Homo sapiens: one gene and its partners. The protein of the gene in region 2 interacts with the protein of the main gene of each other region in a pairwise test. Each region holds a gene or a part of one and is shown on either strand. Other genes may lie near its edges.

Region 1 (8,337 bases), about 66 Mb from region 2:
TTGATTTTGCCCTTTCTTTGAGACGGAGTCTCGCAGTGTTGCCCAGGCTGGATGTAGTGGCACAATCCTGGCTCTCTGCAACCTCTGCCTGCCAGGTTCAAGCGATTCTCCTGCCTCAGCCTCCCGAGTAGCTGGGACTACAGGCGCATGCCACCACGCCCGGCTAATTTTTTGTATTTTTAGTAGAGATGGGGTTTCACCATGTTGGCCAGGCTGGTCTTGAATTCCCGACCTCTTGATCCACCCGCCTTGGCCTCCCAAAGTGCTGGGATTATAGGCGTGAGCCACTGTGCCTGGCCCTGATTTTACTTTGAGCGAGATGGAAACTATTGGAATGTTTTTAGAAGAGGAGTGATGTGGTCTAACTTGGCATCATCAGGTTGTTGGGTTACAAATAGACAATAGGGGAACAAGGGCAGAAACGAGGCCAGTGAGGAAGTTATTGTAATAATTTGGGTAGGAATTGATAGTGGCTTGGTCCAGGGTGACAGCAGTGGAGGTAGTGGGAAATTGGATTCAGGGTATGTTTTGAAGGTAGCACCACTGCTACACCCCCACCTTCTGGCTCCTCTGTGCCCCTGCCAGTCTTGCCACGTCCCAGTAGGCTCCCCTTCCACCTGTTCCTGAATACTCCCACCCAGAATCTGGAGCTCAGGGGATGTGCCCACCTAGGTGATGCTGGCTCTAGCCAGCCACCTGAGCACAGTGGAGTCGGAGAAACAGAAGCTGCGGGCTCAGGTGCGGCGGCTATGCCAGGAGAACCAGTGGCTGCGGGATGAGCTGGCTGGCACCCAGCAGCGGCTACAGCGCAGTGAACAGGCTGTGGCTCAGCTGGAGGAGGAAAAGAAGCACCTGGAGTTCCTGGGGCAGCTGCGGCAGTATGATGAGGATGGACATACCTCGGTGAGTGTGCACAGGCGAGACTGGCTGAGGGGTGGGCAGCCGGGAGTTACCACAGACATGGGGGCAATTGCCCCATCATCCTCAGGGTCCATCAGCTCTACCCAACCTGCTCTCACCTGAAAGAATTCCTTTTTCAGCCCTGACACCAACTCCAGGTGACAGCAAGGGGAAAAACAATATTCAGGTAATTCAGTCAACATTTAATGAGATGCCTACTGTGTACCAGGCATTGTGCACTGCACTGGTGAATGGGGCACACAGAGTTCCTGCTCTCACAATTACAAGCTTGTGAGGGAGATAGATAAGCACCTGGACAATTCCAATCCAGAATTCTACGTGGTACAATTAGGGAAAGCATAACCCAGTTGAGCATGACCCTCCTAAAATTTGCTTTCAAAATGTGTGAATTTTTTTTTTTTTTTTGAGACGGAGTTTCACACTTGTTGCCTAGGCTGGAGTGCAATGGTGCAATCTCAGGTCACAGCAACCTCCGCCTCCCGGGTTCAAGCAATTCTCCTGCCTCAGCCTCTTGAGTAGCTAGGATTGCAGGCACCTGCCACCACGCCTGGCTAATTTTTGTATTTTTACTAGAGACGGGGTTTCACCATGTTGGCCAGGCTGGTTTTGAACTCCTGACCTCAGGTGGTCTGCCCGCCTGGGCCTCCCAAAGTGCTGGGATTACAGGTGTGAGCTACCATGCCCGGTCCAAAATGTGTGAAATTTAACCCTCGCTCAACAGAATGCAGTGATGCCATCTCAGCTCACTGCAGCCTCCGCCTCTGGCTTTCAAACAATTCTTGGGCCTCAGCCACCCAAGTAGCTGGGATTACAGGTGTCTGCCACCACACCCGGCTAATGTTTGTATTTTTAGTAGAGATGGAGCTTTGCCATGTTGACCAGGCTGGTCTCAAACTCCTAGCCTCAAGTGATCTGCCTGCCCTCGGCCTCCCAAAATGCTGGGATTACAGGCGTGAGCCACCACGCCTGGCTGAGAGTGTGTGTTTTCTTGAGATGTATCTGTAGGGAACAAGTCTTATCCAGGAGAACATATATGTGACAAAATACAAAGCAGCAAGTGCTCAGTGCTGGATGAGTGGTTCAGTCAGTGTGGGAAGAATTTCACAGAGAAATGTCTCTGAGGGCTGGAATGGTCTAAGAAGAATTCATAGAGGAAGCAGGGAGCCTGGGCAACATAGTGAGACCCTGTCTCCACAAAAAATTAAAAAATTAGCCTGATGTGGTCGTGTGCACCTATAGCCTCAGCTACTCTGGAGGCTGAGGTGGGAGGATCGCTTGAGCCCAGGAGGTGGAAGCTGCAGTGAGCTGTGATTATGCCACTGCATTCTAGCCTGGGCTGTTGCCAGACTAGAGACTCTGTCTCAAAAAACAAACAAAAAAATAGAGGAAGCAGGATACAGGGATGGGTAGGATATAGGTTGGATTTCCCATTTGAGTGGGTTAGGAGTTGAGATGGATTTTGAAAGTTCATGATGAGGAAGAGGGAGCAGCTTTTTAGACTGGAGTGCAGGGTGTCATTGATAAGGCTTACAGCCTGGAAAAGCTGGTCTGTCCCAGGGAAAGTGAGTAGATGAATTGCATAGGACACATTGGTGAAGCTGGGTAGGAGGGTTGGTGTTTGGATGAGGCTGCAGTTCCTGATGGGGAAAAGCAGATTTTCCTAGTGCGGAATAGGTTAGACAGTGAGGGAGGGTTACGTAGTAAGTCCAGAATGAGCTGTGCAGATGATGGGCACCAGGCTGAGCTAGACACTTTCTGGGTACATGTCAATAAGATCGGCCACACTCCCTTCCCTCAGGAGAGACAGGACAGACATACAATCAACGTAAACACACAGAGATCAGCATAGGGCCATAATTACAAGAGTTAAGGCAAGATTGAGGGTGGTTAGAAAGGAAACTTTTTTTTTTCTTTTTTTTTTGTTTTGAGACAGAGTTTCGCTCTTGTTGCCCAGGCTGGAGTGCAATGGCATGATCTCGGCTCACCGCAACCTCTGCCTCCCAGGTTCAAGCGATTCTCCTGCCTCAGCCTCATGAGTAGCTGGGATTATAGGCATGCGCCACCACGCCCGGCTAATTTTGTATTTCTAGTAGAGATGGGGTTTCTCCACGTTGGTCAGGATGGTCTTGAACTCCTGACCTCAGGTGATCTGCCCACCTCGGCCTCCCAAAGTGCTGGGATTACAGGCGTTAGCCACCACACCCGGCCAGGAAGGAAACTTTCTGTATGAGAAGGAGGGGAAGTCTTGAGATTTTGTCCAAAGCATCTCTGGCTGTTACAAACAAGAGGCCTGAGCTTGGCTGGGCCACTTGCTAGCCTTTCCAGGGGCAGAGACAGGAACAACAGTCTTCTCCTAGGTCCCATCTGTCTGTGATTTCATGGCTTAGAGGGGTCACTGAGAAGGCTACTAGGTAGGGATATCTTGGCCCTTATATGTTGCTTCTTCCCTTCCAGGAGGAGAAAGAAGGCGATGCCACCAAGGATTCCCTGGATGACCTCTTTCCTAATGAGGAGGAAGAGGACCCCAGCAATGGCTGTGAGTCTGCCTCTGGAATGGGAGGGTGAAAAGGGGCAGCAGGAGGCTGGCCCTAGCTGTGGCCCACCCTGTACACAGGACAGTCACCATCTAGAAATAGGTTCTCCACTTTCTCTGGAGACAGGGCAGGGGCTGGGCTAGTACTTCGATTTCCTCAGCCTCCCCATTGAACGAACATGTATTAAGCACTGAATATGTGCCAGGTACTGTGCTAGGCACTAGGAGTACTGAGATGGAAATGGCATAGGTCTTACCAGTAAGGAGTTCACAGTCTAGTGGGAGAATAAACCTGAGACAGGGAGACCATGAGCCCCCCAAGGGAAAGAACCAGGTCTTTCTTACCTTTGTACTCCTGGAACATCCCTTGGTTCATACTTATTAAATAAATGTTTGTTGAATGCATGAATTACTGGGTGAACAACTGAGGTTGTGATGGGCATAGGTCAAGGGAGTGGATAAAAGAATAGCACTTGAGGCAGGTCTAATATTGAGAGTCCAGGTTGGGGTGGGCACAAGTATGGAACAAGACATGCAATGGGGAGTGGAAGGGCAGACAGCAAAGGGGAGAGGAAGAGTCCTTTGTTTATGTTCTGTGATGGTTTAGTGTCCCGTGGTCAAGGTGCTACAGCAGCTCAGCAGGGTGGATATGAGATCCCAGCAAGGTTGCGGACGTTGCACAACCTGGTGATCCAGTACGCAGCCCAAGGTCGCTATGAGGTGGCCGTGCCACTCTGTAAGCAGGCACTAGAGGACCTGGAGCGCACATCAGGCCGTGGCCACCCTGATGTCGCCACCATGCTCAACATCCTTGCTTTGGTGTATCGGTGAGGACTTCCCTCCTCCAGTGCCCAGATCTTCCCCCACATTCCCACCTTGGTCCTCCTTTGGCTTTCATTTTTCCTCTTTACAGGGTACCTCTCCTCCCTGTTGGGCCTCCCAGATACACCCCAACAGGGTGCTTCTTTATGTGCCAGAACTCTCACTTTTCCCATACCTAAGCATTTGCTCATCCCTTGGGATCCTTGTTCCTCTAATCTCTCTTCTGGGGAGTGCTCTCTCCCTCTCTTCCCCCTGCCCCCTTGCTTCTTATAACTTGTGGCCTCCTCTTGGGATGGCAGTGCCCTGCATTCTGGTATGAGTATGTCAGTGAAGCCCCCTTACTGTCCACGCCAGGCTTCCTGTCTCCTCATGGAGGTCTCCAATCCTTAAATGTACTCAGTCCTTCCAAAGGGAAGGAGGGAAGGAGAAGGCTTGCGGGTTCAGGGTAACTCCTGTCACTTTTGTCTTCTTCCAGTGACCAGAATAAGTATAAGGAAGCTGCCCACCTGCTGAATGATGCCCTTAGCATCCGGGAGAGCACCTTGGGACCTGACCATCCTGCTGTCAGTATTCCTTGCCCTCCCCACCCCACGCCCCGCACCCCCCACCATTGCTGTTTTGGCCTCTCTTAGCTCATCCATCTGCTGCCCTCAGTCCACTCACTAAGGGTGCTGAGGAAGGAGGCATAAGAAGTCCTTTCTTCCAGGCACTGTCCAGTGATCCTAATGATTCTCAATTCTCTGAGACTCAGTGACTCCTTTTTATAACAAATATTTTGCTTGAATTTAATTAATAGATAAGTCATAGGTAAATCCACATATGATTTCTACAAAACTTAATATGCTACTCTAATAAATATAAAAGAAAAACAAGAAAAGTAATTTGTAAGGACAATATATACAATGTAATATAATAAGGTAAAAATACAAAACAACAGTAGTTGTATTGAGTACAACTTTGTTAAAAGAAATAGCAAAGTGGCCTGGGCACAGTGGCTCACGAGTGTAATCCCAGCACTAATCCCAGCACTTTGGGAGGCTGAGGAGGGTGGATCACGAGGTCAGGAGATCGAGACCATCCTGGCTAACATGGTGAAACCCCATCTCTACTAAAAAAAATACAAAAAATGCCGGGCGTGGTGGCGGGCGCCTGTAGTCCTAGCTACTCGGGAGGCTAAGGCAGGAGAATGGCGTGAACCCGGGAGGCGGAGCTTGCAGTGAGCTGAGATCGTGCCATTGCACTCCAGCCAGGGTGACAGAGCGAGACTCCGTCTCAAAAAAAAAAAAAAAAAATGAAAATATAGGTGGACAGGCCGGGCGCGGTGGCTCACGCCTGTAATCCCAGCACTTTGGGAGGCCGAGGCGGGCGGATCACGAGGTCAGGAGATCGAGACCATCCTGGCTAAAACGGTGAAACCCCGTCTCTACTAAAAATACAAAAAATTAGCCGGGCGTAGTGGCGGGCGCCTGTAGTCCCAGCTGCTTGGGAGGCTGAGGCAGGAGAATGGCGTGAACCCGGGAGGCGGAGCTTGCAGTGAGCCGAGATCCCGCCACTGCACTCCAGCCTGGGCGACAGAGCGAGACTCCGTCTCAAAAAAAAAAAAAAAAAAAAAAAAAAAAGAAAATATAGGTGGACACTTTATTAAAGTACAGTATTATAAGAAATCACAAGGGTCGGGCACAGTGGCTCATGCCTGTAATCCCAGCACTTTGGGAGGCCAAGGTGGGCAAATCACGAGGTCAGGAGTTCAAGACCATCCTGGCCAACATGGTGAAACCCCGTCTCTACTAAAAATACAAAAATTAGCCGGGCGTGGTGGGGGGCACTTGTAATCCCAGCTACTCAGGAGGCTGAGGCAGGAGAATCACTCGAAACCAGAAGGTGGAGGTTGCAGTGAGGTGAGATCGCGCCTCTACACTCCAGCCTGGGCAGCAAGAGCAAAACTCTGTCTCAAAAAAAAAGAAAATAAATGACAGACCAGATTTATTTGTGTATAAGAGGAAGAGACTGGGCTTGGTGGCTCACGCCTGTAATCCCACCACTTTGGGAGGCCAAGGCAGGTCGATCACCTGAGGTCAGGAGTTTGAGACCATCCTGGCCAACATGGTAAAACCCCGTCTCTACTAAAAAAAAAATATAAAATTAGCCAGGCATGGTGGCATATGCCTGTAATCCCAACTATTTGGAGACTGAGGCAGGAGAATCATTTGAATCCGGGGGTTGGTGGTTGCAGCGAGCCGAGATCGCACCACTGCACTCCAGCCTGGGCAACAGAGCAAGACTCTGTCTCAACAAAATAAGAAGCGGCCCAGCGCTGTGGCTCACTCCTGTAATTTCAGCACTTTGGGAGGCCGAGGTGGTCGGATCACCTGAGGTCAGGAGTTTGAGACCAGCCTGACCAACAAGGTGAAACCCTGTCTCTACTAATAATACAAAAATTAGCCAGTTGTGGTGGCATGCACCTGTAGTCCCAGGTACTCGGGAGGCTGAGACAGGAGAATTGCTTGAACCCAGGAGGCTGAGGTTGCAGTGAGCCAAGATCGCACCATTGCACTTCAACCTGGGTGATGGGGTGAGACTTCATCTTAAAATAAATAAATAAATAAATAAATATAAATAAAAGGAAAGAGAGAAACAACCTTAAGTAGAGATATCACGCCAAGGCAAATGATAGAGTTGTCAATGTACAGAAAATGAAAAATGAAAAGTTTGTTTGTTTTGTTTTGTTTTGTTTTGTTTTTTGAGATGGAGTTTCGCAGTGTCACCCAGCCTATAGTGCAGTGGTACAATCTGGGTTCACTGTAATCTCTGCCTCCCAGGCTCAAGTGATCCTCCTGCCTCAGCCTCCCAAGTAGCTGGGATTACAGGTACGTGCTACCACGCCAGGCTAATTTTTGTATTTTTAGTAGAGATGGGTTTTCACCATGTTGGTCAGGCTGGTCTTGAACTCCTGACCTCAAGTGATCCACCTACCTCAGCCTTCCAAACTGCTGGGATTACAGGTGTGAGCCACCACACCCAGCTGAAAAGTTATTTATTTTTTGTTGAGATAGAGTTTCACTCTTGTTGCCAGGCTAGAGTGCAACATGGCACGATCTTGGCTCACTACAACCTCCACCTCCCGGGTTCAAGCAATTCTCCTGCCTCAGCCTCCCGAGTAGCTGGGATTACAGACATGCCACTACGCCTGGCTAATTTTGTACTTTTAGTAGAGACGGGGTTTCTCCATGTTGGTCAGGCTGGTCTCGAACTCCTGACCTCAGGTGATCCGCCCACCTCGGCCTCCCAAAGTGCTGGGATTACAGGCGTGAGCCACTGCGTCCAGCCAAAAAGCTATTTTTGAATGTGATCTGTGTGAAAATAATTCCCTATGGTATGACATATGATAGGCAGGGATGATGTATCTCAGAAATCATACTCCTGTCTTGATATCCCATCAAATATCAATGTTTACATTTAGCGTTTGGATGTCTGGCAGGACATTAAAAAATTGGCAGAGCTGTCCCACACATGCAGAACATCTATAGCGTTCTTGCCTCCTCAAAGGTAATCTTCATGGTGACAACAACAACAACAAAAAAAAAAAAAAAAGAAAGAAAAAAAACACCTCCAGAAATTTCTTAAAATCCCCTAGAGGGCGATACTGTCCCTTAGCCTCAGAGCCATCCTGTTCAGCAATTTCCCCTCCCTTCAGCCCCTGGCTCCAGGGTAGTAGACTTTGTCTCTTAGAGTTGTGCAGTGAGTGTTGGGCCCTGCTGGGAGGTGGGGAACCTCAGATTCCCATAGGTCTTTTGCAACCCAAATGTCTGATGGGGACAGGCCTGTCTTCATAGGTGGCTGCCACACTCAACAATTTGGCTGTGCTCTATGGCAAAAGGGGCAAGTACAAGGAGGCAGAGCCTCTGTGCCAGCGGGCACTGGAGATTCGAGAAAAGGTACCCATGCCCTCTCTCCCTTCTTCTCTTGTCGCTGTGACCCTTCTCTACATGGCTCCTCTGGTCTAACCCTCCTCCTTCACTTTTTTTTTCTCACCCCCATCTCTGCTTTGTTCTCTCTTCCTT
Region 2 (8,337 bases):
ACATCGCACTCTGGGGACTGTTGTGGGGTGGGGGGAGAGGGGAGGGATAGCATTAGAAGACATACCTAATGCTAAATGACGAGTTAATGGGTGCAGCACACCAGCATGGCACATGTATACATATGTAACTAACCTGCACATTGTGCACATGTACCCTAAAACTTAAAGTATAATAATAATAAAATAAAATAAAATAAAAAGACAAAATAATAACCAGTCAATTACCTGATTATCATATAGATCAGAGATTTGGTTATCACAAGAAATGTACTATGTGAATTCATCAAGAGCTAAAAGTTCAAGGCCTCCTTTATCTCTGAGTATTGACTCTCCCAGAGTTATGAAAATACATTTGTAAACAGCTCATTAATTACACAGAACTGGTTTAATATTGTCTCCTCCTAAAAATTCAGAGGGCACACTTCTGAAAGAGGAGGATGTCAGTAACTTGTGGGATGATAAATATCCTGGTTGTTGATGGAAATAACATCATCTGGAAAAACAGAGGCTGAAAGTTTCTTACCTATCAATATATTTCTTCTCTTTCAGGAAACTCAAGTATATGCATCTACCACTCTCATTTTCCCCTGTTCTTGACTGCTGGCAGAACAGTTAATTCCACAGCAGAAAGCAACCTATTTCTAATCCTTTAACTCTTTACTTTCCTCACCCCTTTCTTCTACTTTTGTCCAATTACCTCAGAAATATTTTTCTCCCCATTTGTTCATTCTACTTCTAAGTTGAAACACAAACTTGAGCCTTGTTTATGAGGATGAGTGTAGTGTAAAAAGGAAAAAGAAAGTCTTAAGTTTTGAAGTGAAATTACTTAAAAGACTTATGTTCTAAATTTCTAAAATTTTTCATAATTTCCACAGAAGCCTCCCCCATTTGCCTATGTCTTCTAATTAACCTTGCTTTCCTCTCATTAAATAAAATTCTTTTGTATTCATTTTTATTGGTTTTACATTGTTTAATTACTAGTGTTGTTCTGTATTTCAAATTCTAAAGTTTAGTGTTAACTGCAAATACAAATAAATAAAATAAAAAATAAATATTCAATTACGGGTTAAATTGGAGTTTGTTGGCTATTCTGAAAATATTCTAATTTTTAAACACAACTTGTCTAAAATCTTAATTTTTCCTTTAATTTCTAGAATTTATGAATTATGATAAGTAAGATATGATAGAGGTAAGTTCAAAACTGTATCTTTTTCTCACAAATATCAAAAGGTCTGAGAACAAAGTCATGAAGTTTGAATATATATAAGAATAAAGATATCTGAGTACATCGGCTTAGACTAGGTTTATTATTTTTGAACTGTAAACTCCAGTAACCCCCGGTTTCTGAGAACTACTGCATTTCTTACCTTTTTTCTGCTTTATCAGCTCCTGGTGTGCCAGATTTCTCTCATTTGTTTCATTCTCTAAGGCCTTCTTATACTGTGCTGCTTCTCTGGAAAGAATGTTCAGGTTATCTTCAGCTTGTGTTCTCTCCAGCTCTAAACGATGAATTTTTTCCTGAAGAGTTTTTAAGGCTAAAATAAGAGCTGTTGAAAAAAAATTTTGTTGATATTTTAAGTGAAAGTTTCTGAACACTTACAATCAAAGTAACATAAGAAAAATAAGCAGTATATTTTTGTTACTGAGCCAGAAAAATGTACAAGTAATGCATATTCTTCAAAAAATGAAAAATAATGACTAACACTTTGAAGAGGCGCACATTTTCTCTCTAATATATCTTGTAAAAACACTATATCTATTATTGTATTTAGTGGTTTCTAAGACTGAGAAAGGTAATAACCACAATTTTAATTTAATAAAATATTTACAAATGAAAGGACTTAAAGACAATGTACAGTCTGGGGAGCATAAGAGTATAAATATGAATAAGAACATTAAAATATAATTTCTACTAATTAACATGGCAATTTAGGTTTAAAGTTATAGGCTTTTTTTCTCAGTTCTTGAGGTATTCCGTTTTAGTCAAATCACACATATTTACTGTTTCTTTGTCCATGATGCAGTATTAAGAACCAGGATAATTATAACCTAATGGTTTACCTGATGTCAGACCTGAAAGATAATAGTATTCTATACTACTGTGACTTATATTCAACTATATTAATATCTTCATGCTTCAGATAAGTTCAGAGTTTTAACTGTCATATAGTTTATATCAAATTAGAAAGATGCTTGCTAGAGATTACCATTTTGTTTTTATAAATGAGATAAATAAATTATATTTATTCCTCTTTACATGATATCTGTAGCTGGCACATTGATTTGCATTATTATTTCTTATAGTTTATTCCACAAAACTAGTTTATTTATTAACAGCAACCATTATTATAGAAGATTTTAAAAGTAGGTGATATCAGCATCTCAGAAAAGAATTTGCACAGCTTAAAATATGCCTGGAGTAATAAAATGTTTTCCTAATTCAATTTTAAGATCCTCCTACATTTCTATTTTAAACGTTAAAATACTAGTATTTTGTAGTTACTCTGATATACTGGCTTCCTAAAATATTTTCAAGAATAATTTTGGATATATGTAATTTCTGAATCTAATTCTTGAATAAGATGCAATTCCATTTAATTCACTAACATTCTAATCATCTAGTTTAGTATTCCAAATCTGACCTTTTATTCTTCAAAGAGTATTTTCCTGTTTTCAAATGATGTTTTTATGATAACTCTGTGATATGTGTCCAGCTGGTTGTATTAATCTTCATTTTATGGCTGAAGAAGCCAAAATAAAAAATGTCAAGTAATTTGTCTAAGTTCATAGAAACTTTTAGCAACAGAATCAAAGTTAGGAGTTTTGTTAAGATTAAATATGCAATCATATTGTATTCCACATAAATATGAAAAGTTTTTTATAGCATGTTTTTACCATTCTTCAAATTTTATATCAGCATTACCTTGGCTATTTGGGCTATGAAGTATCTTAGGAGAGGTAACTTCTAAGTTTGCAGGATGGCAATTCTGAGATGGTTCATTCTGGGTGAATGAGGGAACAAATACTCTTTCTGGAGGTTTATGATAGCTTCCTACTATACTATGCATTAATTCAGAATCCATTATCTGTAGAGAATAAAGGAATGATATAGTATCATGCTTTCCTATTTTAAGGGTAAATGCATTATACAAAAATTCAGGTGAAACTTTAAAAACATAATCATATACTGTGGAGTTGTATCTTTATGAACTTAATTATAAATTCAACTCTAATAGGCTTGGCAATAAAAGAAAGAAAAGTTACTATTTCTTGTGTAAGCAGTACTGACAATTCTGCCTGATTTTCAATAATCATATACCCTGGAGTAAGCATCACATGAGTGATTTGAATTTACTGGTTTCTCAGTTACCCATAAATCCCATATACCTATCATAGTCTGAGCACTTCTCTATAAGCAGTGTGACTCTAGGATTTAAAGAGAAAGTACATATTCTAAAAGATAACTGAGCTTTTAAACACAAACCAACAATATACACTGATTCTCTAATACTGATTGTTGAATTCTAATGTATGGCTTCCTAAGGGATTTTCAAGGGTAATTTTGGATATATGAAATATCGGAATTTAACCTTTGAATAAGACACACCTCTGCTTAATGTATTAGCATTTTAATCATCTAGATTAGAAAGTTTCCAAATCTGAAGAATCTAGACTACTTAGTTTTGTTAGTCTGGTTTTTATTTTGTTGTTGTTTTTGTTTTGGTAAGAGAGCCCTTTTAACCATTTAAGCAGGTAATTTTTGGTCTAAAATTTCCAAATAATTTTATTTTCCTTTCTGCAATTTAAATATTTTAGAAATGTATTCTATTTTTTAATAGATTCCAGTCAATGTTAATTAAATTAATTCATAATCACATAAGGTGATAACTGCTTACAAAAAAATAACTCACTGGAAGAATTTTAAGCAAGAAAGCTTGCTTCAAAATGGAAATCCAAGAATTACACTATAACATTAGCCTATTTTGATTTTTGAGAGTTGTACATTTTCCATGATTTCACCACCTCCTCAATTCACAAGGCAAAGGCAGGCACTTCCCAGGATAGTATTTTCTGGAAGGGCAGAAGGCACACTTCACTTCCTAGAATTTTCTACTTTAGCCATTGCCATGATTGGCAATCTCCTAGAACATTCTGATTGGTCTAAATTAGAGGCTATAAAGCCTAAGGTTTGCTAAGATACTTGATGCTTTTTGTTCTTGCAAGGTAACCATATTTTGCTATTGTGATTAGTACCAGCTATCTCAGACACTGCCTGCTCCCCATGGGATACCGCATCTATCTAAGTTGTTGTTCCCTCAAAAAACAAGAGATCAACATTAGTCACAGCTGGCTCACTATAAAGTGGAGGTAAGGCCCTAAAGTACGTAAATCCTGAAGATGGTTGTACATCTTCAGAGAGAGGTAAGTTGTTAAAGCTATCCCAAGAATACTGGAGCTACTCAAGAAATCTGACTTAGTTTTCAGCTCCGGGTGGGTTTCTCCAATGACATAAAGAATGAAATTTTGCTATTTGTCACTACACACTGAAGTCCTTGGGAGGTCTCTGCTTCCTCTGACCTAAGTATAATATTATTTCACAAACCGGATTTTGTACCAGTTAAAAAACTGGTCCAAATTTGAGGTTTTTAATGTATATGAAATAATGACTAGTTAGAAGATTGCCAGTAAGTTAAAAAGTAGACTACAGTTTATTTAAATTAAATGTGTAGACACATATTAAAGTGGGCACAAGCAGAATAATCCACTGATAGGATAAAAACAAGATGAAGAAAAAGAAAGAAAACAGTAAAGAGATGAGAGGACAAGTTATGTTGTGACACAGAGCTCAGAGATTCTCATTGTAATGGGATCTCAGCTTAACCTTTATAATCTGGTCCTGTGTTGTAAACAAGTGCATAAGCCTACTGGAAGCTTATTTATATAAAGCACTGAAGCATCCTGGGAGAAAAACTCACTCTGAAAGAAGGTGAAGTAACTACAAAAGGCTTGATCCAAAATAAAAGCCTTAAATGACTAAGGAAAGGAGGAGTGATTCTGAGTAGACTATGATGGTGGTCATTCTAATTTATCTCTGACCTAGTGCCATGGACTCATATGTGGGTTCTAAAAAGAGAGAGAGTTTAAATAAAAACTGAGAAATGTTTCACCAATATCTCTATAAAATATCAAGGCATTAGCTTCCCTGCTTTGTGTAAGATGTTACATGACAATGGAGGGGGAGTCAGATTGCTAACACAGTTTTGGCCCCTTTCTGGTGCATCAGTTAGTAGTATTCAGTGAGAGAGAGAGAGAGAGAGAGAGAGAGAGAGAGAGAGAGAGAGAGAGAGAGAGAGAGAGCAAGAGAGACAGTGAACAAGAGTGAGAAAGCGAGAGAGCAACAGAGAAACAGAGAGAGCACAGATGGAAGGGATACATTCATGGGCACATATGAGAAATATTTCTAGGGAAAAATTTCTGAAAATACAGAGAAGTACCTAAATCACAATCTCTAGGATTCCGGTATTTCTGATACCAGACTTAGCTAGCTGTTGGTAACTGAAAAGACCTCAGGAATTCTTATGGAACATTTTATAGGTGTCTTCAAGTAAGGGCAAAAGGCTATAAAATGTGAACCTCATTTGTATCAAGCCTGAGAAACTCAAGTTGTACCTTTTTTTTTTTTCTTAAAATTTTTATTTATTTTTTCTTTATTTATTCTAACAACAAACAAACAAAAAATGGAATACATGTGCAGAACGTGCAGGTTTGTTACATAGGTATACATGTGCCATATTAGTTTGCTGCACCTATTGACTCGTCCTCTAAGTTCCCTCCCCTTACCACCCACAGGCCCTGGTGTATGTTGTTCCCCTCTCTGTGTCCAGGTGTTCTCAATGTTCAACTCCCACTTATGAGTGAGAACATGCAGTGTTTGGTTTTCTGTTCCTGTGTTAGGTTGCCAAGGATGATGGCTTCCAGCTCCATCCATGTCTCTGCCAAGGACATGATCTCATTCCTTTTTATGGCTGCATAGTATTCCATGGAATATATGTACCACATTTTCTTTATCTAGTCTATCATTGATGGGCATTTGGGTTGGTTTTCCTGAAACCATTCTTGACAGCTTGTGAACAACCAGGGAAATTACTCACTGTTTTTATGGTTTATAAAATTAAGATACCCCAATTGGCTGCAACTAAGAACCCATTGCATAAAAAAACTATCCCCCTAAAAAGAATGCTCTAGACACAAACACTTTACTGCAAAGCATTTTTACTTTTTATAGAGGAAAACACTTATTCCATAGGACTGCTAGGGAGACGACATTAGGGGGCAGTCAGAGATACTATAGAAGACTTTTGAAATAAAGGAATCTCTGTTTGCTGTAACTGCTACTTCTTCCAAGTTTGGATTTTTCCTTAGAGAAACTGAAGAAGGATCAACAGCTCAGTTTCTTTGATCTGTTTTTTTCTTTATGTATGCATCTATGCTAACTTACCTTAAGAGCAAACACAGTAAGGCTGGACTAACTCTTTTATTTTTTAATGTATAGTACTTTAGGAAGTACTATAACTTATTATATCTTATTATTATCTTATTATAACTGAATAAGATAATTTGTGGTGGTGGAACTTACTTATAGATATCCCATAATAATTATATAATGTATTATTTATAATATAAAATCACCAAAATGTTAAGATGTGACAATAAAAACTGGTCAATAGAAACTAGTAAATACACGAATGTAACATAAATACTTCAATGGGATTCAGCTATTCATTTGTTGATCATCCAATAAATGATGTTAGAAAAATTGGGGAAACACTTTGGGAGGGAGAGGTGGGCGGATCATGAGGTCAGGAGTTCGAGACCAACCTGGCCAACAGTGAAACCCTGTCACTACTAAAAATACAAAAAATTAGCCAGGCGTGGTGGTGGATGCCTGTAATCCTAGCTACTTGGGAGGCTGAGGCAGAAGAATCACTTGAACCTGGGAGGTGGAGGCTGCAGTGAGCCGAGATTGCGCCACTACACACTAGCACAGGCAACAATGTGAGACTGTGTCTCAAAAACAAAAGAAAAAAATGGGGAAAAAATCCATTTAAGGCTTCATCTTGCCCCATACATCAATACAAATTTCAGATAGCTACAGAGTCAAATAAAGAAAACGCAGCTGGGCGCGGTGGCTCATGTCTGTAATCCCAGCACTTTGGGAGGCCGAGGCGGGCGGATTACGAGGTCAGGAGATCGAGACCATCTTGGCCAACATGGTGAAACCTCATCTCTACTAAAAACACAAAAAATTAGCCGGGTGTGGTGGTGGGCGCCCGTAGTCCCAGCTACTCAGGAGGCTGAGGCAGGAGAATGGCGTCAACCCGGGAGGCGGAGCTTGCAGTGAGCCGAGATCGCACCGCTGCACTCCAGCCTGGGCAACAGAGCGAGAATCCATCTAAATAAATAAATAAATAAAAAACTCTAAAAATTATTTTAAGAAATCAGTGAATATTAAATAACCTTAGAATAGGTAAGATATTCTATGTTTAAAAGTAACAGAAAAATAAAGGAAAAGATACAAAAGCTCTGTTAAAATTAATACAACATATAAGGCCGGGCGCGGTGGCTCACCTCTAATCCTAGCACTTTGAGGGGCTGAGGCAGGCGGATCACGAGGTCAGGAGTTCGAGACCAGCCTGGCCAGCATGGTGAAACCCCGTCTCTCTTAAAAATACAAAAATTAGCCAGGCATGGTGGCGCACACCTGTAGACCCAGCTACTCGGGTGGCTGAGGCAGGAGAATCACTTGAACTCGGGAGGCGGACGTTGCAGGGAGCCGAGATCGTGCCACTGTACTCCAGCCTGGGTGACAGAGAAAGACTCTGTCTAAAAAAAAAAAAAAAAAATTAATACAACATATAAAAATTATAAACAAAATTGAATGACAAAAGACAAACAGAAGTAATTAAGTGCAATGAAGAACAAAGGGTTAATGTTAATATGTAAAGGGCTTTTGTAAGTCAAAAGAAAACTACTAACGTCATAATAGAAAAATGACAAGTGGCAAGTGCTTGTAATCCCAGCTACTCAGGAGGCTGAGGGAGGAGAATCGCTTGAACCCGGAAGGCGGAGGTTGCAGTGAGCCGAGATCAAGTCACTGCACTCCAGCCTGGGTGACAGAGTGAGACTCCATCTCAATAAATAAATACATAAATAAATAAATCTTAGTAATAATCAATGAAAAGCAGTTATATCCAGATTCAAAAGTAAAGCCTTTGCAGCTGGACCTCAATTCAAATCCTGAATCTGCCACTTACTACTATCTTTCTGACTTTCAGA
Region 3 (8,337 bases), on a different chromosome or scaffold from region 2:
TTCTCTCACTAGTTCCCAGACTCAAAGGAGTTTCTCTAGTTTGTTTTCAACTAAGCATATCCAGTATAAAGCTACCATACTGTCATTACTAACCCTCAGCCAATGTCGGTTTACTGTTTTAAGAGAAAAGGGTGAAAAAGATGAGACTCTTAATTACCATCTCATAAACGAATGTTTCTTGTCTGCAGGCTCGATCTATTGTAATGGTTTCTTCCCGATGTTCCAAGAACCTTTTTCTAACCCTGTTGTAGATGTAAAAGAAAAAAAAAAATCAAAGTTCAACATTTGTTATTCGGGCTTCAAAAACATATTTAACATTCAAGTTTTTTTATTTTGAACTAATTTTAAGTAGCAAAAGCAGGAAAAAGTTCCCTTCTATCTCTTGTTCAGCTTCCCTTATGTCAACATCTTACTTGATCATGAGACAATTAAGAACAGGAAATAAATTCTTACACAATATTATTAGCTATACGCCTTTTTAAAATTTCACACAATTTTTAATTTACTCGTTTTTTTTTTTTTCTGTTCCAGATTCCTATCCAGGATCCCACATGGCATCTGTTATTTTTCCTTAGTCTCCTTGAGTTTGTTAAAATACTTCAGTCTCTCCTTATCTTTCACGATCTTGACAATTTCAAAGAGCTCTAATCAGTTATTTTATAGAATGTCCTTCAATTTGGGTTTGACCGCTAGTTCCTCATGATAGGAATAAATTTAGCATTTTGGTAAGAATACTACAATGATGCCCTTCTCATTATATCATATCAAGATGTTCATGATATTAATATGACATCTTACTAGTGATGTTTAGCTTGTTTCTGTCTGCCAGGTTCCTGCACCAGAAAGACACCTTATTTTCTATGAACTTGGTAAATATTTTGGGGGAGATACTTTGACACTATGCAAATCTTGTTTCTCCTCAAACTTCACCCATGAATTTTAGCATTCACTGATAGATTATGTCTGCAACATTTATTACTGTGCTGTATGCCTAATAGCAATTCTGTCTTTACTTTCTTCTACATTTATTCATTGGATCTTCTACATTTATTCATTGGAATTATATTTTGAGGAAGACCTGCCTCTTTCCTCCCATCTGTTTATTTCATCATTTCTATTAGTATGAACCTACAGATAATTGTTTTATTCTGGGGTTAAAATCTAATACTATCACTATTTTGTTGTTCAAATTGGTACAGCTTTATCATTAGGAGCTCCCGTTCTTTCAGCAAGTCCTCTCCTTTTTAAAATTATTTTTTATTTTTTTAATATTCCCTTACTTTCCGGCACCACAAGATGCTCAAGGCCCATCCTATATTTTTCTTGTCTCGTCCCCGGAATCAACCACTTGTAAGAGCCCTAGTTCCTTTACTGGAAAAAGGTGTTTAGAGACCAGTATCTGGGTTCTAGGCGTTCTCATTGTTACTGGAGTCACTGCTTCTAGGCCTCTCAGCTGAGATAGGCAGGAAATATATGTATGTATACTAACCTATACATGTATAAATATCTGTATTTCTGTATTTTACTGTCATACATTTAAAACTATGAGTTTATACTGATACTTCTGATCCCAAACTAAAACCACAGGATTCATTTTAGCCTTTAACATTTCCTTGTTTATAACGTCTTTCTCCACAAGTGAGAAATCCAGCTTTCACTGTTGGCAACCTATGATTTGTTCAATTCTAGTAAATACATAAAATAGTTACAGAATTGCTAACCTATACCCCTGTGAGAAACACTAAATTATAAACAGTTCTGTCTTCACCTTTACATTATATCAAGATACGCTTTTGGTAGCATTTTATTATTTAAAAATCGGAACAATATATTTAAGATTAGCACGGCCCCTGTGCATGGATGATATGCAAATTCATGAAGTGCTCAAAAAAAAAAAAAAAAAAAAAAAGACAGGCTTTAATACAGACTTTAGTTCTTTCTTCCCCACCCTTTTCAGTGGTGTTATATTACACATCCGTAATACAACTAGCCTTATTTTTTAGTTTTTGAATTCAGTTTTGGGTTCCCCCTACATCCTAGTTGGTTTTAATTGTCTGATTACATTTGGGGTGTGTGAAAAATATGTGACACATTACTATGATCCTAAGAGTCAAAAGTGTCACTCCCTCTTTGTTCCTACTAACCTGTTCCCATTCCCTCCCTTCTTTCCACCCCTTTCCCACCCACCCCTGCAGGCAATCAGTCTCTATAGTTTTGGTTTGTCCTTTCCATTTCCTTTGTTCAAATAAACAGATATTTGTGTATACTCTGTTATCTCCTGTATCAATCTGAGTTCAATTAGGAAGAAAAAAAGAACAGCAATTTGAACAAAGGTTAAGGATTCAATAACTTTAACAGAGGATTGGAATAATGAGGGATTGGCAAGGAAGCAGTAAAAGGGAACACTGAAGTATAGAATAATAGCAAACAGAAGGAGCACCCTACCCCTAGGGCTGAGAAAGAGCGCAGGGAAGTCCTTTTTTCTTCCTGGACAGAGATCCAGACGAGCTGGAGAAAGAAGTTGCTATGGTACTGCATCAGTGGAACTTGCTGGAAATCCACCCTCAAGGGCACTAGGAAAACCTGTTCAGGGGAGCTGTGGAGGGAAATGGGGTTGGCAGGAAAGCTGCTGGGCGCGGGGTGCTTCAGACTGCAGTGTATTGCAGGAGCTGGGCACTGGGGAAGCTGTGTGCACTGCAGGATCCTGCTGAGCCAGCACATCAGATCAGGAAGCAAAACCTTTGAGACTCCTGAGAAGTCTCTCCATTGCCCTTCACTGACAAAGCTTAAGGATGTGCTAGTTGGCAAAAGAAAAGTATTTAAAAGGCCAAGGTCCATTTTTACAGAGCAGGAAAAAGAGGTAAATTTGAAGATGAGAGCCAATAAACTACACCTGGCACACCTTTCTTACATGAAAGGTGGCATATACTTTGGGACTTTGCTTTTTTCACTTAATAGAATGTACTGGAAATTACTCTGAATTAATCCTTCCTCATCCTTTATTCTAGCTGCAAAATATTACCGTGTGGATTTCCCATAGCGTATTCAACACTCTCCTCTCCTACGTCTGTATATTTAAGGTATTTCAAATATTTTGCAATTACAAACAATACTGCAAGGAATAACAAGCAGACAGAAACAAGCTAAACATCACTAGTAAGTATTGAACACATGTATTTTCATATTGTTGGAGGGGTACCTTTGGTATAAATTACTAGAAATGGGATTGCTCGGACAAAAAGTATTATTTTCCTCATTAATTTCTGTTATCTTTATTATTTCCTTTCTAGTATTTTCTTTTCACTTACTTTGTTGTTCTTTTTTTGTTTTCTGAGCTGGAAATTTATTTTCTTTTTGTTTTTTTGACAGGGTCTTTTTCTGTTGCCCAGGCTGGAGTGGAGTGGTAAAATCACGGCTCACTTCAGCCTCAATCTCCTAGGCTCAAGTGATCCTTCCACCCTGGCTTCCTGAGTAGCTGGGAGCACAGGTGTGTGCCACCACAGCTGGCTAATTGTTTTTATTTTTTGTAGATACAGGTTCTCCCTATCTTGCCGAGGCTGTTCTCAAACTCGAGGGCTCAAGCAATCCTTCCATCTTGGCCTCCCCAAGTGTTGAGAGTACAGGCATGAGCCACTGCACGCAACCTGTTAGTAATATTCTATGTTATGAATGTCATTGATGTTTCCTTTGTGACCTAATACATAATCAATTTTTGTGAACATGTCATACAGTTCTCATTAGCAGGGAGCAAATTTTATGTATACGTACCTCCATAAGATATAAATTAAAAAGTGTCCTTTATCACATGTAATACTTTGGGGCTTGAATACTATTTGTCTGATATCAGCATCACTACTCCTGCTTGATTTTTGTTTCCATTTACTTGGTATACTTTGGTCTAACCCTTTATTTTTAGCTTTTCGGAATCATTTTATTTTAGATGTGTCTCTTGTCATCCCAAGATTTTTGTTTTACAAGCCAAATTGAAAATCCTTTTTTAATAGGTTGCTTAAGACTAATGTATTTGGTCTCAACTCTATCACAATATTTTCTAATTATTTGTATTTTGTTGTAATAGCTGTTTTTCATTATGAAATGCATACCCTTCTTTTCCATTTAATTTTTAGAAATTGAGGGGGAGTTGATATTTCTATTATTGTTCTACTGGTTACCTTTCTACTCACATTTTTTAAATCCTAGAGTTACCCATTTTCTTATTTAACACTTTACTATCTGGTGTGTCAGGTTTTTTTTCCTCTGCAGTAGTCTTTAAAACCCATCTATTGCCCACACATTATCCATTTTTCTCCTTCCATCATTTTAGTTGCAATACTGTACTTTGTTGCAATACCCAACGGTTACACAAATCTTCCACCCTCATCCTCTCTGTATTAGTCCTTTTGCTGAAAATTTTCCAGTCATCAATTGGTTGGATAAAGCTCATTCTCTTGTATATTCCTCAGAAATGGCCAGCAGGTACAGAAATTACCCAGGTTTTCGTTATGTCGAAAACTCTTTTTCTATAACCTTGACATTTGAGAACATTCAGTTAGATATAAAATCCTTCAATTCACACCTTCATTGAGCTTTAAAAAAAAACACTGCTCTATGTTGCCTTGCTTTGTATGTCAGTTTTTCAACATGTGATGCTTTTTGTAAGTTTGCCTTTGTAAGTTATATGTTCTTTTTGCACAGAAGACTTGATGATTTCATCTTTATCTCTGAAATCTAATAGTTGTACTAAAATATATCCCAAAAGTCAATAAGTCTGGGTTAATTTTTCCAGGTACCTAGGGAACCCTTTCTAGATTTAGTTTTTTTTTCAATTTCTGGAAACTTTTGCTGGATTATGTTTTTAAACATGAATTATGTTCCATTTCTTTTTCTTCTTCAGGGACTCTGATAATATGAATATTATGTCTTTGCCTATCTACCTACCATTCCCTACTTTCTCGGATTCATCTTACTTTTTTCTTTGTCATTTTCAATTCTCTTCGTTGTTTTTATGCCTTTCTTCATTGCCTCTTGCTTTCATTTCAGTCTATTTTCCCTTAGGTATCTTACAATTTATTCACTTATGAGGTAATTGTCTTTTTCTTCCATTTCTTCCCTTTGTTTCATCAACTCTTTTTTCATTTCTCCTTTAGTCATCATTTCCATTCTTATTAATAGTTTTAAAAATTCTAAGCCAAGGTAAACATTTTTATACCCTCAAATGCTTATTTGAGTATATTCAATTCTGTTTGGAGTACAGACTTATAGGCTTTCTCTTTTTTTTTTTTTTTGAGACAGAGTCTCGCTGTGTCGCCCAGGCTGGAGTGCAGTGGCGTGATCTCGGCTCACTGCAAGCTCCGCCTCCCAGGTTCACGCCATTCTCCTGCCTCAGCCTCCCAAGTAGCTGGGACTACAGGCGCCCGCCACCACGACCGGCTAGACTTAACAGGCTTTACCTGTTTCCGAGTGGAACAGGTAGTCTCCAAAGTTGATCTGTATAAACAGTTATTTCCTGATTATCTGCAACAAGCTCTCGTTAGATTTTATTTCCTCTTGCTCATTTTTGTAACATCTGGGGCACAGTGATAGTTTACAAGATTCCCAGTTTGATGGTGCTCTTTTCTGTCATTCTAGCCAACTTCAGATATATGAGAGCTGTTTGACAGTTTTTTTTTTTTTTTTTTTTTTGGAGACAGAGTTGCGCTGTGTCACCCAGGCTGGAGTGCAATGGCGCGATCTCAGCTCACTGCAACCTCCACCTCCCGGGTTCAAGTGATTCTCTTGCCTCAGCCTCCCGAGTAGCTGGGACTACAGGCGGGTGCCACCACGCCCAGCTAATGTTTGTATTTTTAGTAGAGGTGGGGTTTCACCATATTGGCCAAGCTGCTGTTGAACTCCTGACCTCAAGCACTCCACCCTGTTTAAGTTTTTTTAAAAAATCATTTGTGGTTGGTTTGGTGGAATAGGAGTTTTGAGTTCTCCAATTTCATGGTTCTTTTGTTTTTTGTTTTTGCAGGACTCTGTAAGTTCCTTTTGTTAACCTTTAAACAGTACATCCTGGACCTGTAAACAGTGCTTTCTTGGTCACAAAAGTGAGGGGGATGGGCAGAATAATCTAAAATTTCTATTGTATTAAAAGTAATGTTGCTGAAGGGCTGGGCGTCGTGGCTCACGCCTGTAATACCAGCCCTTTGGGGCAAGGCCGGCAGATCACTTGAGGTCAGGAGTTTGAGACTAGCCTGGTCAAAATGGTGAAACCCCATCTCTACTAAAAATATAAAAAATTAGCCAGGCATGGTGGCACACGCCAGTAATCCCAGCTACTTGGGAGGCTGAGGCAGAAGAATCACTTGAGCCCAGGAGGCAGAAGTTGCAGTGAGGAGAGATTGAGCCACTGCACTCTAACCTGGGCAACAGAGTGAGTGAGACTCTGTCTAAAAATAAATAAATAAACAAATAAATAAGTGATGTTGCTGAAGCTTTTGGAATGACAAGTAAGTTTTAGCAGCACCCATGTATTAACAATTATCTCTCCTATTCCTAGGAATTAAAACCAACTAAGTAGTCAAAAAAAATGTCAAAACTGCCAAAGCTATGTAGTTTGCTATAGATTAAGGGAGCAACATGTATCAAGGAAGAATCAATATCTACCAACTACCTTTGGTCCCTTATATGCATAAAACGAGCTCTTTCATTTGATGTGGGAAAGAAAAAGTACCAGAAATTTATTTTATGTCATAATAAAGAAATGATGTACTTATGTTTTATTTTTATAATATAATAATGTGAAATTATTGGTGAGGAAAAGGAAGGTTCAGAGAAAGATAAAGCATAGAGATACAAATTTAGGCTTTTGCCACAAGTCTAATTTTTTTTTGGCAGGACCATTAAGGTTAACAATGGTCATGTATTAAATACACTAGCTTCACAGTATATCAAAATAACCCCAGTTGAAGAATACCGTACTGATTTACATTAGATTATATATAATTCTACCCACAAATCCTGTTTGGAGGGACTAGAAGAAACCAAAGAGATCTAGTTGACCTAGTAGTGCAAAGTAGTCAAGGGAAATAATGTTTAAGCAGTCTTAAAATTACTATTTAACATGGCTTAACAAAATTACTATAAATCAATGAATACATTATTAACTATAGCAAAAAAGAGTCTGCTTTAATATGATTATCATCAACGTTCTTTTTTCAGTCTATCTCTAAAAATCACTTCCTGAGTCTTCTGAAAGTTTCATTTATTCCACTCATTCTACAAATATTTGTTGGCTCCCTACTATGCACCACAGTTCTAGGAATTGGTAATATAGCAGTGAGTGTGGCAGATGTAACTTAAGGAACTTTCAAGTGTAGCTAAGAAGACAGAAAATTAAACACGTATATTACAGATGTGATGAGCATTTCAATAGGGAAGCATAGGGTGCTACATGAGCATACAAGATGACCTAAATGGAGTCCGTAGTCCTTTAGCTAAGACTTGCAGGATGAGTAGAAGTCAACAAGGTCAGGAGATAAGCAAGAATGACTGTTCTGGGCAAAGGCCTGGAGTGAGAGAGCATATTCGAGGAACTGAAACACAGTGCAGTGTGGCTGGAACACTGCAGAGAGAAAGCTTAAAAAAAATCAGCAAGGTCGGGCCAGGTGCGGTGGCTCATATCTGTAATCCCAACACTTTGGGAGGCCGAGGTGGGTGGATCACGAGAGGTTGGCCAACATGGAGCCTGACCAACATGGAGAAACTCCGTCCCTACTAAAAATACAAAATTAAGCGTGGTGGCACATGCCTGTAATCCCAGCTACTTGGGAGGCTGAGGCAGGAGAATCACTTGAACCTAGGAGGCGGAGGTTGCCGTGAGCCGGGATCGCACCATTGCACTCAGGCCTGGGCAACAAGAGTGAAATTCCATCTCAAAAACAAAACAAAATGAAAACAGCAAGGTCCACTCCTTAGAGGCCTTTGTGAGCCACTACAGACTCAGGACTTCAGCCTAAGGGACATCAAAAGGTTTTAGGCAAGGGAGTGACAATCAGATGTGCATTTTAGACAAATACAACTAATCAATCAACAATAGTTACAGAGCACCAATTGGAGCAAGGCAGTATAGTAGGCTTGAGAACAATACACAGATGGGAGTTTGGACTCTCATTGAGCCTTCAAGGACTTTAGAAATGTTAAGAGTTTAAGGCAGTATAAATGCATCTGTTTCCTAAGGGAAAGATGGGTTGTGGTAATCTGGAAAGGAATCTTTGGGCTTTTAAAAAAGTGGTATGGGCAAGGTGTGGCGGCTCACGCATGTAATCCTAGCACTTTGGGAGAACGAGTTGGGCAGAT
Region 4 (5,492 bases), on a different chromosome or scaffold from region 2:
TTGGTAATTAGAAGTTATTTTCATAGGTTCCGGCTTATTTGGATTGCTTAATCCTAACAGTCAATTAAAATAATAAGCATAAAATAAAAGAACACAGAATGGAAAAGAAGTTCAATTATAGTAAGCCCTCACTGAATATTAATTCCCTTACTCCTTTTCTCCTTCACCCAACAACTTCTAGTTGTATTTCCACTGTTAGTAAAATGTACTGGATTTCACTTCCCCACCCCGCGAGATGGAGTCTCGCTCTGTCACCCAGGCTGGAGTGCTATGGCGCAATCTCGGCTCACTGCAACCTCCGCCTCCCGTTCAAGTGATTCTCCCACCTCAGCTTCCCAAGTAGCTGGGATTACAGGCACCTGCCATCATGCCTGGCTCATTTTTGTAGTTTGTAGAGTCGTGGTTTCACCATGTTGGCAAGGCTGGTCTTGAACTCCTGACCTCAGATGATCACCCGCCTTGGCCTCCCAAAGCGCCAGGATTACAGACGAGAGCCACTGTGCCCGGCCAGATTTCACTTATGAAGATGACAGTACCTAGTTAGATGAAAAGCTCAGAAAACTTCCTTTTAAGTATTGAGTTTCAAAGTAATGTCATGTAGAGTTTTTTTTAATAGTTTAAAAAATGTATTTTGAGAAATCACTTATTCCTCAAAAAAATAACTAAAAATCTAAATAGTAATGATTTAACCCCATTACATTTTCTTTAGAGAATCATAGACTATTTTAAATATCATTCCTGATTGGTTGATAAAGTTTCCAAGAGATACAAGGGATGGCCTGACTTGCAGGCAGGGAAGGAAGGTGATGCGGGAGATAGGACGTGAGGTGAGGTTGCTGGCTTAGTGAGACACTATCAGGAAGAATTTGGAAAAGGAGGCATTTTGCTGTCCTGTGATAAGATGGGGTGAACTGCTGATCAGGGGGTTGAGGAAGGGGGGATTACAAAGGAATACAAGAAAGGAACTATGTGTAATATCTTGAAGAAAGTCAAACAGGTAATATTAGATAAGGAAACTTTCACAGAAGTAATTCAATATAAAGTTATGTAGTTGGTATATTTGGCAAAACCAAGACTAGAACTTTCTTCTGAATTCCTGTTTTAAAGTTCTTTCAGACAGGATCTTGCCACCATTCCTCAGTAACCCAAGTTTGGTCATTGTTAAATGTTAATATTAGAAAGTACCAGTACCTCATAGTAGCACCCTAAATTCTTATTAATCAAATGGGGTTGGCTTTTGAAGACATTAGTATTAAAAATAAGATATAAGATGGAATGAAAAATTAGACATGTTAAAACATAGATTAGCATTTTCTAAGCTCTTCTTGATATTCTCATGTTTAAAATTTATTTTGTTGCTTTGTTAAAAGAATTGTTTCACTAAATAATATACTTTGAATGAGTTAGTGGCTAGGGGGTTTGTTATGTTTTCCTAGTGGTAGTTAGGACCATTGTTCTTTAATGTTTTAATCTTGTGTATTAGGTATGGTGAACCGTGAAGTATTAGAACAAGTGGAGCGAGGATACAGGATGCCGTGCCCTCAGGGCTGTCCAGAATCCCTCCATGAATTGATGAATCTGTGTTGGAAGAAGGACCCTGATGAAAGACCAACATTTGAATATATTCAGTCCTTCTTGGAAGACTACTTCACTGCTACAGAGCCACAGTACCAGCCAGGAGAAAATTTATAATTCAAGTAGCCTATTTTATATGCACAAATCTGCCAAAATATAAAGAACTTGTGTAGATTTTCTACAGGAATCAAAAGAAGAAAATCTTCTTTACTCTGCATGTTTTTAATGGTAAACTGGAATCCCAGATATGGTTGCACAAAACCACTTTTTTTTCCCCAAGTATTAAACTCTAATGTACCAATGATGAATTTATCAGCGTATTTCAGGGTCCAAACAAAATAGAGCTAAGATACTGATGACAGTGTGGGTGACAGCATGGTAATGAAGGACAGTGAGGCTCCTGCTTATTTATAAATCATTTCCTTTCTTTTTTTCCCCAAAGTCAGAATTGCTCAAAGAAAATTATTTATTGTTACAGATAAAACTTGAGAGATAAAAAGCTATACCATAATAAAATCTAAAATTAAGGAATATCATGGGACCAAATAATTCCATTCCAGTTTTTTAAAGTTTCTTGCATTTATTATTCTCAAAAGTTTTTTCTAAGTTAAACAGTCAGTATGCAATCTTAATATATGCTTTCTTTTGCATGGACATGGGCCAGGTTTTTCAAAAGGAATATAAACAGGATCTCAAACTTGATTAAATGTTAGACCACAGAAGTGGAATTTGAAAGTATAATGCAGTACATTAATATTCATGTTCATGGAACTGAAAGAATAAGAACTTTTTCACTTCAGTCCTTTTCTGAAGAGTTTGACTTAGAATAATGAAGGTAACTAGAAAGTGAGTTAATCTTGTATGAGGTTGCATTGATTTTTTAAGGCAATATATAATTGAAACTACTGTCCAATCAAAGGGGAAATGTTTTGATCTTTAGATAGCATGCAAAGTAAGACCCAGCATTTTAAAAGCCCTTTTTAAAAACTAGACTTCGTACTGTGAGTATTGCTTATATGTCCTTATGGGGATGGGTGCCACAAATAGAAAATATGACCAGATCAGGGACTTGAATGCACTTTTGCTCATGGTGAATATAGATGAACAGAGAGGAAAATGTATTTAAAAGAAATACGAGAAAAGAAAGTGAAAGTTTTACAAGTTAGAGGGATGGAAGGTAATGTTTAATGTTGATGTCATGGAGTGACAGAATGGCTTTGCTGGCACTCAGAGCTCCTCACTTAGCTATATTCTGAGACTTTGAAGAGTTATAAAGTATAACTATAAAACTAATTTTTCTTACACACTAAATGGGTATTTGTTCAAAATAATGAAGTTATGGCTTCACATTCATTGCAGTGGGATATGGTTTTTATGTAAAACATTTTTAGAACTCCAGTTTTCAAATCATGTTTGAATCTACATTCACTTTTTTTTGTTTTCTTTTTTGAGACGGAGTCTCGCTCTGTCGCCCAGGCTGGAGTGCAGTGGCGCGATCTCGGCTCACTGCAAGCTCTGCCTCCCAGGTTCACACCATTCTCCTGCCTCAGCCTCCCGAGTAGCTGGGACTACAGGTGCCCACCACCACGCCTGGCTAGTTTTTTGTATTTTTAGTAGAGACGCAGTTTCACCGTGTTAGCCAGGATAGTCTCGATCTCCTGACCTTGTGATCTGCCCGCCTCGGCCTCCCAAAGTGCTGGGATTACAGGCGTGAGCCACCGCGCCCAGCCTACATTCACTTCTAAAGTCTATGTAATGGTGGTCATTTTTTCCCTTTTAGAATACATTAAATGGTTGATTTGGGGAGGAAAACTTATTCTGAATATTAACGGTGGTGAAAAGGGGACAGTTTTTACCCTAAAGTGCAAAAGTGAAACATACAAAATAAGACTAATTTTTAAGAGTAACTCAGTAATTTCAAAATACAGATTTGAATAGCAGCATTAGTGGTTTGAGTGTCTAGCAAAGGAAAAATTGATGAATAAAATGAAGGTCTGGTGTATATGTTTTAAAATACTCTCATATAGTCACACTTTAAATTAAGCCTTATATTAGGCCCCTCTATTTTCAGGATATAATTCTTAACTATCATTATTTACCTGATTTTAATCATCAGATTCGAAATTCTGTGCCATGGCATATATGTTCAAATTCAAACCATTTTTAAAATGTGAAGATGGACTTCATGCAAGTTGGCAGTGGTTCTGGTACTAAAAATTGTGGTTGTTTTTTCTGTTTACGTAACCTGCTTAGTATTGACACTCTCTACCAAGAGGGTCTTCCTAAGAAGAGTGCTGTCATTATTTCCTCTTATCAACAACTTGTGACATGAGATTTTTTAAGGGCTTTATGTGAACTATGATATTGTAATTTTTCTAAGCATATTCAAAAGGGTGACAAAATTACGTTTATGTACTAAATCTAATCAGGAAAGTAAGGCAGGAAAAGTTGATGGTATTCATTAGGTTTTAACTGAATGGAGCAGTTCCTTATATAATAACAATTGTATAGTAGGGATAAAACACTAACTTAATGTGTATTCATTTTAAATTGTTCTGTATTTTTAAATTGCCAAGAAAAACAACTTTGTAAATTTGGAGATATTTTCCAACAGCTTTTCGTCTTCAGTGTCTTAATGTGGAAGTTAACCCTTACCAAAAAAGGAAGTTGGCAAAAACAGCCTTCTAGCACACTTTTTTAAATGAATAATGGTAGCCTAAACTTAATATTTTTATAAAGTATTGTAATATTGTTTTGTGGATAATTGAAATAAAAAGTTCTCATTGAATGCACCTATTAATCGTTTTAGTTGCTATTCATATTCTCATTCGTTTTTTAAAAACTGATATATTCTGAATTTATTCTTCCATTGAGAAAAAAATGTTCAGTTACTTGTAACTACTGAGCAGAATTTAATCAATCCTTTATTAAATTCAGAACATTATTGAACTCATTCTTTGTGGTCAATTTTCTTTTTTTTTTGTTTTGTTTTGTTTTTTTTTTGAGACGGAGTCTCGCTCTGTCGCCCAGGCTGGAGTGCAGTGGCGCGATCTTGGCTCACTGCAAGCTCCGCCTCCCGGGGTCACGCCATTCTCCTGCCTCGGCCACCCGAGTAGCTGGGACTACAGGCGCCTGCTACCACGCCCGGCTAATTTTTTGTATTTTTTAGTAGAGACGGGGTTTCACCATGTTAGCCAGGATGGTCTCGATCTCCTGACCTCGTGATCCGTCCGCTTCGGCCTCCCAAAGTGCTGGGATTACAGGCGTGAGCCACCGCGCCCGGCCTGTGGTCAATTTTCTATGTCAAGTGAGTGACATTATTTTTACAAGTATTTTCTTCTTCTTAAAATTATACCAGCAAATACAGTTAATGCAGAAACCTAAGTAATTTGAGTGTAGCTATTCACAATCTATGTGAAGAATATAAAATAGAATGACCAGTTTTATTATAAATTAAGGGGCTTAATTTTCTAAAAAAGAAAAAAAATGAGCCTTATCTCTGTGTTTTATAATTATTATATAGGATAATGAAAATAAAATTGTCTAATACTAAATTTTGAATGGTCATTCAAAAGCATTTATTTTCAATAAGTTAATTACAAAATTATTAGCTTTTTCTCTGATTTCTAAAACACTTCATTTAGTAAACATTTATTTTTGTAGTATAGCAATAGTTCCTCAATTTAAGAATGTTTTTCTAGTTTCCTGTTTGCCTTTTAATTTTCCATATAATTTCTGACATGTAAGTTGTACATTTGTAGATTGTCAAATCTGTTCATTCCTTTTTTATGTTTAGAAGTCTTCATCCACCCCAAGATTAATATTCATCTATCTATATTATAGTTTATGCTTCTGTGTGTGTGTGACAGGATCTTGCTCTGTTGCCCAGGTTGAAGTGCAGTGGCACCATCATGGCT

Evidence for each region.
Region 1: the proteins of CEP57L1 (region 2) and KLC4 interact in binary tests that used the Homo sapiens proteins (3 or more experiments, as listed by UniProt).
Region 3: the proteins of CEP57L1 (region 2) and SNAPC3 interact in binary tests that used the Homo sapiens proteins (3 or more experiments, as listed by UniProt).
Region 4: the proteins of CEP57L1 (region 2) and YES1 interact in binary tests that used the Homo sapiens proteins (3 or more experiments, as listed by UniProt).

The regions. Positions count from the first base shown.
Region 1 is NC_000006.12:43,062,245-43,070,581, forward strand, and holds part of KLC4 (kinesin light chain 4), read left to right. Parts: intron 1-672; coding exon 673-903; intron 904-3,375; coding exon 3,376-3,457; intron 3,458-4,061; coding exon 4,062-4,281; intron 4,282-4,751; coding exon 4,752-4,839; coding exon of another isoform or gene 4,840-4,908; exon of another isoform or gene 4,909-5,153; intron 5,154-8,109; coding exon 8,110-8,211; intron 8,212-8,337.
Region 2 is NC_000006.12:109,139,968-109,148,304, reverse strand, and holds part of CEP57L1 (centrosomal protein CEP57L1), read right to left. Parts: intron 7,885-8,337; exon of another isoform or gene 7,630-7,884; intron 3,087-7,629; 5' UTR 3,084-3,086; coding exon 2,924-3,083; intron 1,548-2,923; coding exon 1,368-1,547; intron 1-1,367. UniProt on the Homo sapiens protein: Centrosomal protein which may be required for microtubule attachment to centrosomes.
Region 3 is NC_000009.12:15,425,457-15,433,793, reverse strand, and holds part of SNAPC3 (snRNA-activating protein complex subunit 3), read right to left. Parts: intron 243-8,337; coding exon 158-242; intron 1-157.
Region 4 is NC_000018.10:720,624-726,115, reverse strand, and holds the end of YES1 (tyrosine-protein kinase Yes), read left to right. Parts: intron 1-1,483; coding exon 1,484-1,692; 3' UTR 1,693-4,528; downstream 4,529-5,492. UniProt on the Homo sapiens protein: Non-receptor protein tyrosine kinase that is involved in the regulation of cell growth and survival, apoptosis, cell-cell adhesion, cytoskeleton remodeling, and differentiation.